Regions from separate parts of the Homo sapiens genome. Here region 1 is linked to region 2. Evidence: fine-mapped expression QTL. A gene starts in region 2. The other region holds a variant in brackets. All regions are shown on one strand. Distances are between the middles of the regions.

Region 1 (4,511 bases), 38 kb before region 2:
GGAGGATCCCCTGAGCCCAGGAGGTCAAGGCTGCAGTGAGCCAAGATCACACCACTGCACTCCAGCCTAGATATATGGCTTAGGGAGTCCACATAAATGAGAATAAGGTCCCCTCAGAGGGGACAGAGCCGAGGTGGGTCAGCTGGGATCTTCCATTTGTCTCCTTTACCTGGCCGGCATCTATCACAGGAGAACCTGTCTACTAGAATGGCTGCTGGAGTTTGCCCTTAGAGACCCGAGATAGGCTCAAAAAAATGACCTCCAAAAGACAGCCATGTCCTAATCCCCAGAGCCTGTGTTACCTTATATGGCAAAATCACTTTGCAGATGTGATTAAGGATCTTGAGGTAGGGGATTATTCTGGCTTAGCCGGGTAGGCTCTAAATGCCATCACATGCATCCTTATAAGAAGAGGTCATGGCCGGGCGCGGTAGCTCATACCTGTAAGCCCAGCACTTTGGGGGCCAAGGCAGGAGGATTGCTTGAGCCCAGGAGTTTGAGACCAGCCTGGGAAACATAGTGAGACCCCATCTCTACAAAAAATAAAAAAAAATTAGCTGGGTGTGGTGGAGCATGCCTATAGTCCCAGTTACTCGGGAGGCTGAGATGGGAGGATCCCCTGAGCCCAGGAGGTCAAGGATGCTGTGAGCTGAGATCACGTCACTGCCCTCCAGCCTGAGCAAGACAGTGAGACCCCTATCTCAAAAAAAAAAAAAAAAGAAGAAGAAGAAGAGGTCATGCCAGGCACAGTGGCTCATTCCTGTAATCTCAGTGCTTTGGGAGGCCAAGGCAGCAGGATCACTTCAAGTCAGGAGGACCACTTGAGGCTAAGAGTTTGAGACTAGCCTGAGCAACACAGCAAGACCCCAGCTCTACAAACATTTTTTAAAAATAGGGTAGAGGAAGACTGGACATCCATATAGAAGAGAAGTCCAAGTGAAGACGAAGTAGAGAGAGATTGGAAGATGCTGGCCTTGAAGACTGGAGTGATGCGGCCACAAGCCCAGGAGTGCTGGCAGCCCCCAGGAGCTAGAAGAGGCCAGGAACAGATTCCCCCCGAGAGCCTCTGGAGGGAGCATGGCACTGTCGGCACCTTGATTTTGGCCCAGTGGTAATGATTTTGGACCTTTGGCCTCCAGAACTGTGAGAATAGAAATTTCTCTTGTTCTCATAAAAACATGGGCAAAGGACATGAACAGACACTTTTCAAAAGGAGATGTACATGCAGCCAACAATCTTATGAAAAAAGACTCAATCAACATCATTGATCATGAGTGAAATGCAAATCACAACCACAATGAGATATCATCTCACACCAGTCAGAATGGCTATTATTAAAGTCAAAAAATGACAGATGCTGGGCCAGGCGTGGTGGCTCACACCAGTAATCCCAGCACTTTTGGAGGCCAAGGTGGGCAGATCATGAGGTCAGGAGATCAAGACCATCCTGGCTAACATGGTGAAACTCAGTTTCCACTAAAAATACAAAAAATTAGCCAGGCGTGGTGGCAGGCACCTGTAGTCCCAGCTACTCGGGAGGCTGAGGGAGGAGAATGGCGTGAACCCGGGAGGCAGAGCTTGCGGTGAGCCGAGATCACGCCACTGAACTCCAGCCTGGGCGACAGAGTGAGACTCTGTCTCAAAAAAAAAAAAAAAAAATTAGCCGGGAATGGTAGTGTGTGCCTGTAATCCCAGCTACTCGGGAGGCTGAGGCAGGAGAATTGCTTGAACCCAGGAAGTAGAGGTTGCAGTGAGCTGAGATTGCACCACTGCATTCCAGTCTGGACAACAGAGTAAGACTCCGTCTCAAAACAAAAACAAAAACAAAAACAAACGAACAAGAAAATAACAGATGTTGGTGAGGTTGTGGAGAAAAAGGAACACTTATACACTGTTGTAAATTAGTTCAGCCATTGTGGAAGACAGTGTGGTGATTCCTCAAAAACCTAAAGACAGAAATACCATTGGACCCGGCAATCCCTTACTGGGTATATACCCAAAGGAATAGAAATCATTCTACAATAAAGACACATGCACACGTATGTTTACTGCAGCACTATTCACAACAGCAAAAACATGGAATCAACCTAAATGCCCATCAATGATAGACTGGGTAAAGAAAATGTGGTAGGTATACACCATGGAATACTATGCAGCCACAAAAAAGAACAAGATCATGTTCTTTGCAGGGACATGGATGGAGCTGGAGGCCATTATCCTTAGCAAACTAACACAAGAACAGAAAACCAAATACTGCATGTTCTCACTTATAAGTGGGAGCTGAACAATGAGAACACAT[G/A]GACACAGAGAGGGGGGCAACACACACTGGGGCCTTTCAGAAGGTGGAGGGTGGGAGGAGGGAGAAGATCATAAGAAATAACTATTGGGTACTGGGCTTAATACCTGGGTGAAAAAAGAATCTGTACAACAAACCCCCATGACACAAGTTTACCTATGTCACAAACCTGCACACTTGTACCCAAGAACCTCAAAGTAAAAAAAAAAAAAAAAAAAAAAAGAATTTTTTTTTCTCCCTCACTCTGTCACCCAGGCTGGAGTGCAGCAGTGGGATCTCAGCTCACTGCAACCTCCACCTCCAGGGTTCAGGCGATTCTCGTGCCTCAGCCTCCTGAGTAGCTGGGATTACAGGTGCCTGCCACCACGCCCATCTAATTTTTGTATTTTTAGTAGAGATGGGGTTTCACCATGTTGGCCAGAATGGTCTTGAACTCCTGACCTCATGATCTGCCCACTTTAGCCTTCCAAAGTGCTGGGATTACAGGCATGAGCCACCGCACTCGGCCTGAAATTTCTGTTGCTTTAAGGCACGAAGTCTGTGTGGCCCGTGTTACAGCAGCTTCAGGAAATTAACACTGGCTCCTTCACTGGCTGTACCCCACCTCACAAAGACAGTCCACATCCTCAGCCCCTTGGACACTCAGTCCTCAGCTCAGACCTCTGCAAAGCTCAGGCCTGGGTTTGCTGGAGAGCTCTCCAATCTCTTCCCCCTTGGAAGCGCCACTAGAAAGAGCCGGATTTTTCTGGACACCAGAGAAGCGTCTCTGTGATTCAAGTCTCACTGCCCTATGGACCAGCTGGGGCGTTGGAGCTGATGGAGAAAAAAAAAAATACACCCAACCACGTAAAAGGCAAAGGCAGGCACACACCCCACCCAAACACGGCCCCCGCACCATCCGCTGCCATATGCTTGTTTCTTGAAAAAGAAGCTTGAGAGAACAAACAAAAAAGAAATTTCTCCCCTTCTGGAAGGCGGGCGGGGGGGGGGGTATCCTTTCTCCCCAGCAGCCTCAGCCTCCCTCTGAATACTCCCTCTCTAGTCCCAGAGGCTCCCCAGTGGGGGTAGAGTGGCCTGGGGGTCCTGGATTCCTGCCCTCCCCCACCACCACTGTCACTGTAGCCGGGAAGAACACTGCCAGTCACAGCCCTGGCCTTCCATTCGTATCTGCTCAGGCCAGGCTCTGGGCTGGGCAGCGGGAGGGGGTCTTACACCCAGCCGCAGTGCAGTAGAAGGCAGTCTGGGGTCATGGTTAAGACACCTGGGGTCTCACTGGGCGCAGTGGCTCACGCCTGTAATCCCAGTGCTTTGGGAGGCTAAGGCAGGAGGATCAAGCCCAGGAGTTCAAGATCAGCCTGGGCAGCACAGTGAGACCCCATCTCTACAAAAAAACAAAAAAGTTAGCCAGGTGTGGTGGTGCGTGCCTGTTGTCCCAGCTACTCGGGGTGCTGAGGCAGGAGGATAGCTTGACACGGGAGGTCAAGGCTGCAATGAGCTATGACTGCAGCACTGCAGTCCAACCCAGGGGACAGAGCTAGACTCTGTCACACACACACACAAAAAAAATCTGAGTTCCAGTCCTGGATCTGACCCCAAAAGCTGTCCTCCAAGTCCTCTGCCCCACTCCCTGCTAACAGAATCCCCCCGTTGTGTCCTGGTATCTAAAGATGGGACAAACTTTGCTGGGTTGTCCCAACAACCAGTGCTTGGGGCAGCTGGGCCCTCCCAGTCCCTGGGAGGAACTTTGGTGATTCTCCAAGGCTCAGAGCAAGGCACTCCTTTTCCCCTAGCTGGGACAGGTGTAAGGAGAGGCCAGAACCCAATTCTGGCCACTGAGACATGAGGGACTTCTAGGAGAGCTGTCCTTGCCCTTAGAAAGGAACTGAAACCAGGCCAGGAGTGGTGGCTCACACCTGTCATCTCAGCACTTTGGGAGGCCAAGGTGGGCAGATCACCTGAGGTCAGGAGTTTGAGACCAGGCTGGCCAACATGGCGAAACCCCGTCTCTACTAAAAATACAAAAATTAGCCAGGTGTGGTGGTACATGCCTGTAATCCCAGCTACTTGGGAGGCTGAGGCAGGAGAATCGCTTGAACCCAGGAGGCGGAGGTTGCAGTGAGCTGAGATCACACCATTGCACTCCAGCCTGGGCAACAGAGCAAGACTCCGTCTCAAATAAAAAAAGGGACTGAAACCAGGGATGTCCTCCTTCTCC
Region 2 (4,239 bases):
GTGTGGACTTGAGCCTCCCACACCCCAGAGGCAGGATGGGGGTTCCGATACCCTGTCACCTTGGGGCCAAGCCTGTCCCTTGGTCCGCAGATGCCTGCTCAGAAGAGGTCAGAGTCTATCTCACACCCTCCTGGGCCCCAAATAGGGCGGTTCATGACGGCCACCTAACTACCTTATACCTAGCCCCTCCCTGCCAGCAGCCACCAGCCTCCAGCCACCTCCTCCTGCTTAGAATAAATAATCGATGCTGGTGCCCTTCCCCTCTGGAATGACACTGCTGAAATAAATGAGCTGCTTGGGGCACCTTCCAAGTCCCAAGGCCCCGGGCCAGTGCCAAGGAGTCAACAGTCCTGGCCACGGGGCAGCCAGACACACAGAGGCCGACCATGGCAGCGGCGCGCCAGGGTGGCTTCTAGACACCCCTCTCCTCTTCTAAGAGAAACCCCAGCAAATGCCCACTTCTCCAAAAACTGCGGGGGCCTGCCCTCCACTCCCACCCGCCAGGCCCAGGGCCATCCCGGGGTACCCCTTGGCACATTCTCCATCCAAGAGTCAGTGCTCCCCTCACAGGCCCTGCAGCGAGACCCCTATGTCCCAGCACCCTCGCTTCAGCTGGGATGGGGACACAGGAGACTCCCACCGCAGGACCTTGGTCCTGGGAGGTAGGGTCACTAGGCCAGACGCCAGAGCTCCAGCCCCCTCCAGCACTGCCAGGAGGGTGGAACGAACTCTCAGCGGCACAGCGGCCCCCTTCCCTGGGCCCACGCCAGGCGAGGCAGGGTCTCACTCCCTGGCTGCTGGCCAGGGGTGAGGAGCCCAGGAGAGGTGTCAAGCCCATCATGCCCAGGGTACTTAGGATGGGGCGGGTGGGTGTTCAGCACCCTGTGGCCCCTCCTCTGTCCTCTCCACCCATCTGCAGGAACTCAGAGACCACCCACAGACCGAGTATCCCCAACTTACTCCTCTGAACCCTTTGTGGTCCCCCCACTGCCACCTTCTGAGTCCCCTCCACCCGGGATTCAGCGGCCACCACCACACAGGCCAGCCCCCTCCCCGGGGCCGGGGCGGGGGGTCCACTACAGGAACCACCCTGCTGGGGCAATCCTGGCTGGACTGGACTCCGCCTGGGAGTTGGGGGCGCGGGCCAGGGGCTGGCCCAGACCGGGAGAAGGTGGAGGGGGGAAAGGCGGGGACCGCGGCCTTCCCAGCCCCCTCTGCTCCCACCCCGGCGCCCGCCACCGCGGGCAGCGCGACTGACCTCATTCGCCAACTGCAGCAGCCTGCGGGCGCCGGCCCGGGACGCCCCCCACCTCCAGAAGAGCCGGTGGCAAGGAGGGAGGGGGTGACAGCTCCCAGCTCCCGGCCCCTCCCGGGCAGGTGGGGGGCGGCCGTCCCTCCCCTCCCCCCGGGCCCGAATTATAATCCCAGTCACGTGCCTCCCCGGGCACCCAAAAGCCGGCCCCAGCTCCTGTAACACCTTGAGAGGGGGAGGGGCGGGGACCCCCCCCCCCGGAGGCGGAGGGGATCGGGGGCGGGGGTGGGGGAGAAGGGGAGAAGGGCCTCGGTGCCCGCCCCCCGCAAAAGTTTCTCCTACCTTGGAGGATCCCCAAGCGCTCCTGCCAGCGGCGCCCCGGCCCCGGCCCGCGGCCAGGACTCAGCCTCCTGCCGCTGCCTCCTTAATTAATCCGGGAGAATGGGGGAAGGAGAGGCAGAGGGAGGCGAGGACGGCGGCGCGGCGAGGGCGGGGAGGGAGGCGCGGGGAGGGGGCGCGGGGGGGGAATCGGCCGGCCGGGGGGCTGGCGCTCGGCGGCCCCCACCCCCGGCGCGGGCTGCGGCGGAGGGCGGGGCGGCGCGGGGAGAGGAGCGGAGAGCGGGAGCGCGGGGAGGCTCTTTGTTCTGTAATCCCAGTAAGATTGCCAGCCATTCGCCCCGGCCCTAATCCCAGCCCCGCGCAACACCACCCTCCATTGGCTGCCATTTACATACGGGATTAGCCCGCCCCGCGCCCCGCGCCCCTGCGCACCCCCCTTGCTACCCAGCGCCCCTGCGTCCCGGGGACCTGGGCACCGCGGTGGGGAGAGCGCGCCGCACCCCTCGGCCCCGGACCTGCGGGGAGGGGCGGTGGCGCCCTCGGTTCTCCCCCACCAGCGCCGGATTAGAAAAGCCTGGGCGCGCCCCCGTCTACCCCCACCGCTCCCCACCACCACTGGGAGAGCAGCCGGGCGCAGGGGGCTGAAGTTGGAGGGTCAAGGTCACCCAGCTGGAACGCGCGGAGGCCCTGAGTGTCCCGGCTGGTCACTCCCGCCTGGCCCGGGTTCTAGTCCTAAGGCTTGGGCCAGGTACCTCTTACTCTTACAGCCTTTGTCCCCCTCCCACCCCTGAGATGTGCAGGAAGGCAGTGACAGGCCGAAAGTCGCAGCAGAGCCAACTGGACTCTTGGTCCCATCTTGTCTGATGGGACCTCCCTCTGATAGGCTTTTACCCCTGTCCCCCCAACCAGCCCCCCCGCCCCCCGCCCGCCCCGCTCCCACCAACCACACACACACCACAGCAGCGCTCCTACTGAATCAGTGCGCACGCCTCCCATCCGGCCCCAAAGCCATAAATCCTAATTCAGCACAAGGAACACAGTCCTTCCCCCACGTGGTGCCCTGATCCCTGAACTAGACCTTGGCTAGACTGGGCATGGCAGGGAGGGAGGGACTCACCCCAGGCAGGCCCCAACCCCAGGGAGCTTCTGGCTTAGAAGGACAGCCAAACATAGATCGAGAATCTCCCAGGTCCTGGCAAAACCCACAAGGTCTCCCCACAGCCTCCTGGCCAAACTGCCTTTGCAAAGATTAGGACAGTGACAGAAGTTTAGCGTGGCTGACTCCATCTTGCTTCCAGCCTCACGCGCTGGCTGTCTTCACTCATTCCGGGGCATAGGCCAAGCTAACCGGGGGAGGAATTTAGTTTATAGTTCAACTTTGAAACAAGGATGATAATAGTTACTCCTTAAACCTAACCTGCTTTTTATACAAGAGACCAAAACCACCTTTGTAAAACTAACGAAAGGCCGTGAGATTAGGATTATGGGAGGGGCCTGGACGCTGCTAAAACCTACGCATCGTTTTTATAATCTGACTGCTCAGGAGTCATGTGGCGAGAGATCACAAGATTTGTGAGTTCCCCACTTCCTCCTATAGATAGCATCTCTATTGTGGAAACTGAGATTGGTCTTTGGAGATGTTTTTCAGACTTTCGCATTCGGGCAACCGACTGACTCACCTGGACCTGTGTGACTCATGACTCAGCCCATCCTGTGGCCCCCACTCAGAGACCGACTCAGTGCATAAGGACCGTTTGCCACACCCCTGTGATTTCATCTCCAACCAATCAGCAGTACCCATTCCCTGGGCCCTTGCCCACCAAATTATCCATAAAAACCCTAGCCTCTGAGTTCTTGGGGAGATTTATTTGAGTAATAACTCCAGTCCTACTGCTTGGCTAGCTCTGCATTAATAAGACGCTTTTGGCTGGGCTCAGTGGCTCATGCCTGTAATCCCAGCACTTTGGGAGGCGAAGGTGGGTGGATTGCTTGAGGTCAGGAGTTCAAGACCAGCATGGCCAACACAGCGAAACCTGGTCACTAAAAATACAAAAATTAGCCGGGTGTGGTGGTGCATGCCTGTAATCCCAGCTACTCAGAAGGCTGACGCATGAGAATCACTGGAACCCAGGAGGTGGAGGCTGCAGTGAGCCAAGATTCAGCCACTGCACTCCAGCCTGGGTGACAGAGTGAGACTGTGTTTCAAAAATTAGGCCAGGCACGGTGGCTCATGCCTGTAATCCTAACACTTTGGGAGGCCGAGGCAGGTGGATCACTTGAGGTCAGGCATTCAAGATCAGCCTGGCCAACATGGTGAAACCCTGTCTCTACTAAAAACACAAAAATTAGCCGGGCGTGGTGGCAGGCACCTGTGATCCCAGCTGCTTAGGAGGCTGAGGCATAAGAATCGCTTGAACCTGGGAGGCGGAGGTTGCAGTGAGCCAAGATCGCACCACTGCACTCCAGCCTGGGCGACAGAGTAAGACTGTCTAAAAAATTTTAAAAATTAAGAAACATAAAACTATTTCTCGCTGTAATACCATGGTCTCAGTGAATTCTTCCTGTGCAGCGGCAGGAACACCCGTCAGACAATTACACTGGGGTCTCTTCTGGACACACACCAGGAACTTGGTGAGGGTTAACTTTGG

What was found. PIP is the estimated chance that this variant, and not a neighbour inherited with it, causes the effect.
Region 1: its variant is the best candidate, but not a certain one, in a credible set for the expression of GTF2IRD1 in lung (TOPMed, PIP 0.56).

Annotation. Positions count from the first base shown.
Region 1 is chr7:74,489,319-74,493,829 of GRCh38, reverse strand. The region is part of intron 1 of GTF2IRD1 (GTF2I repeat domain containing 1); the gene reads right to left. Among named protein-coding and RNA genes, the nearest start is that of GTF2IRD1, 38 kb to the right of the region's middle. The variant G/A (reference allele first, on the strand shown) is at 2,300.
Region 2 is chr7:74,451,532-74,455,770 of GRCh38, reverse strand. It overlaps GTF2IRD1 (GTF2I repeat domain containing 1), which reads right to left and starts at 1,865. Exons shown (of 27, transcript NM_005685.4): 1 at 1,595-1,865. RefSeq lists silencers at 1,243-1,312, 1,815-2,164 and an enhancer at 3,050-3,569.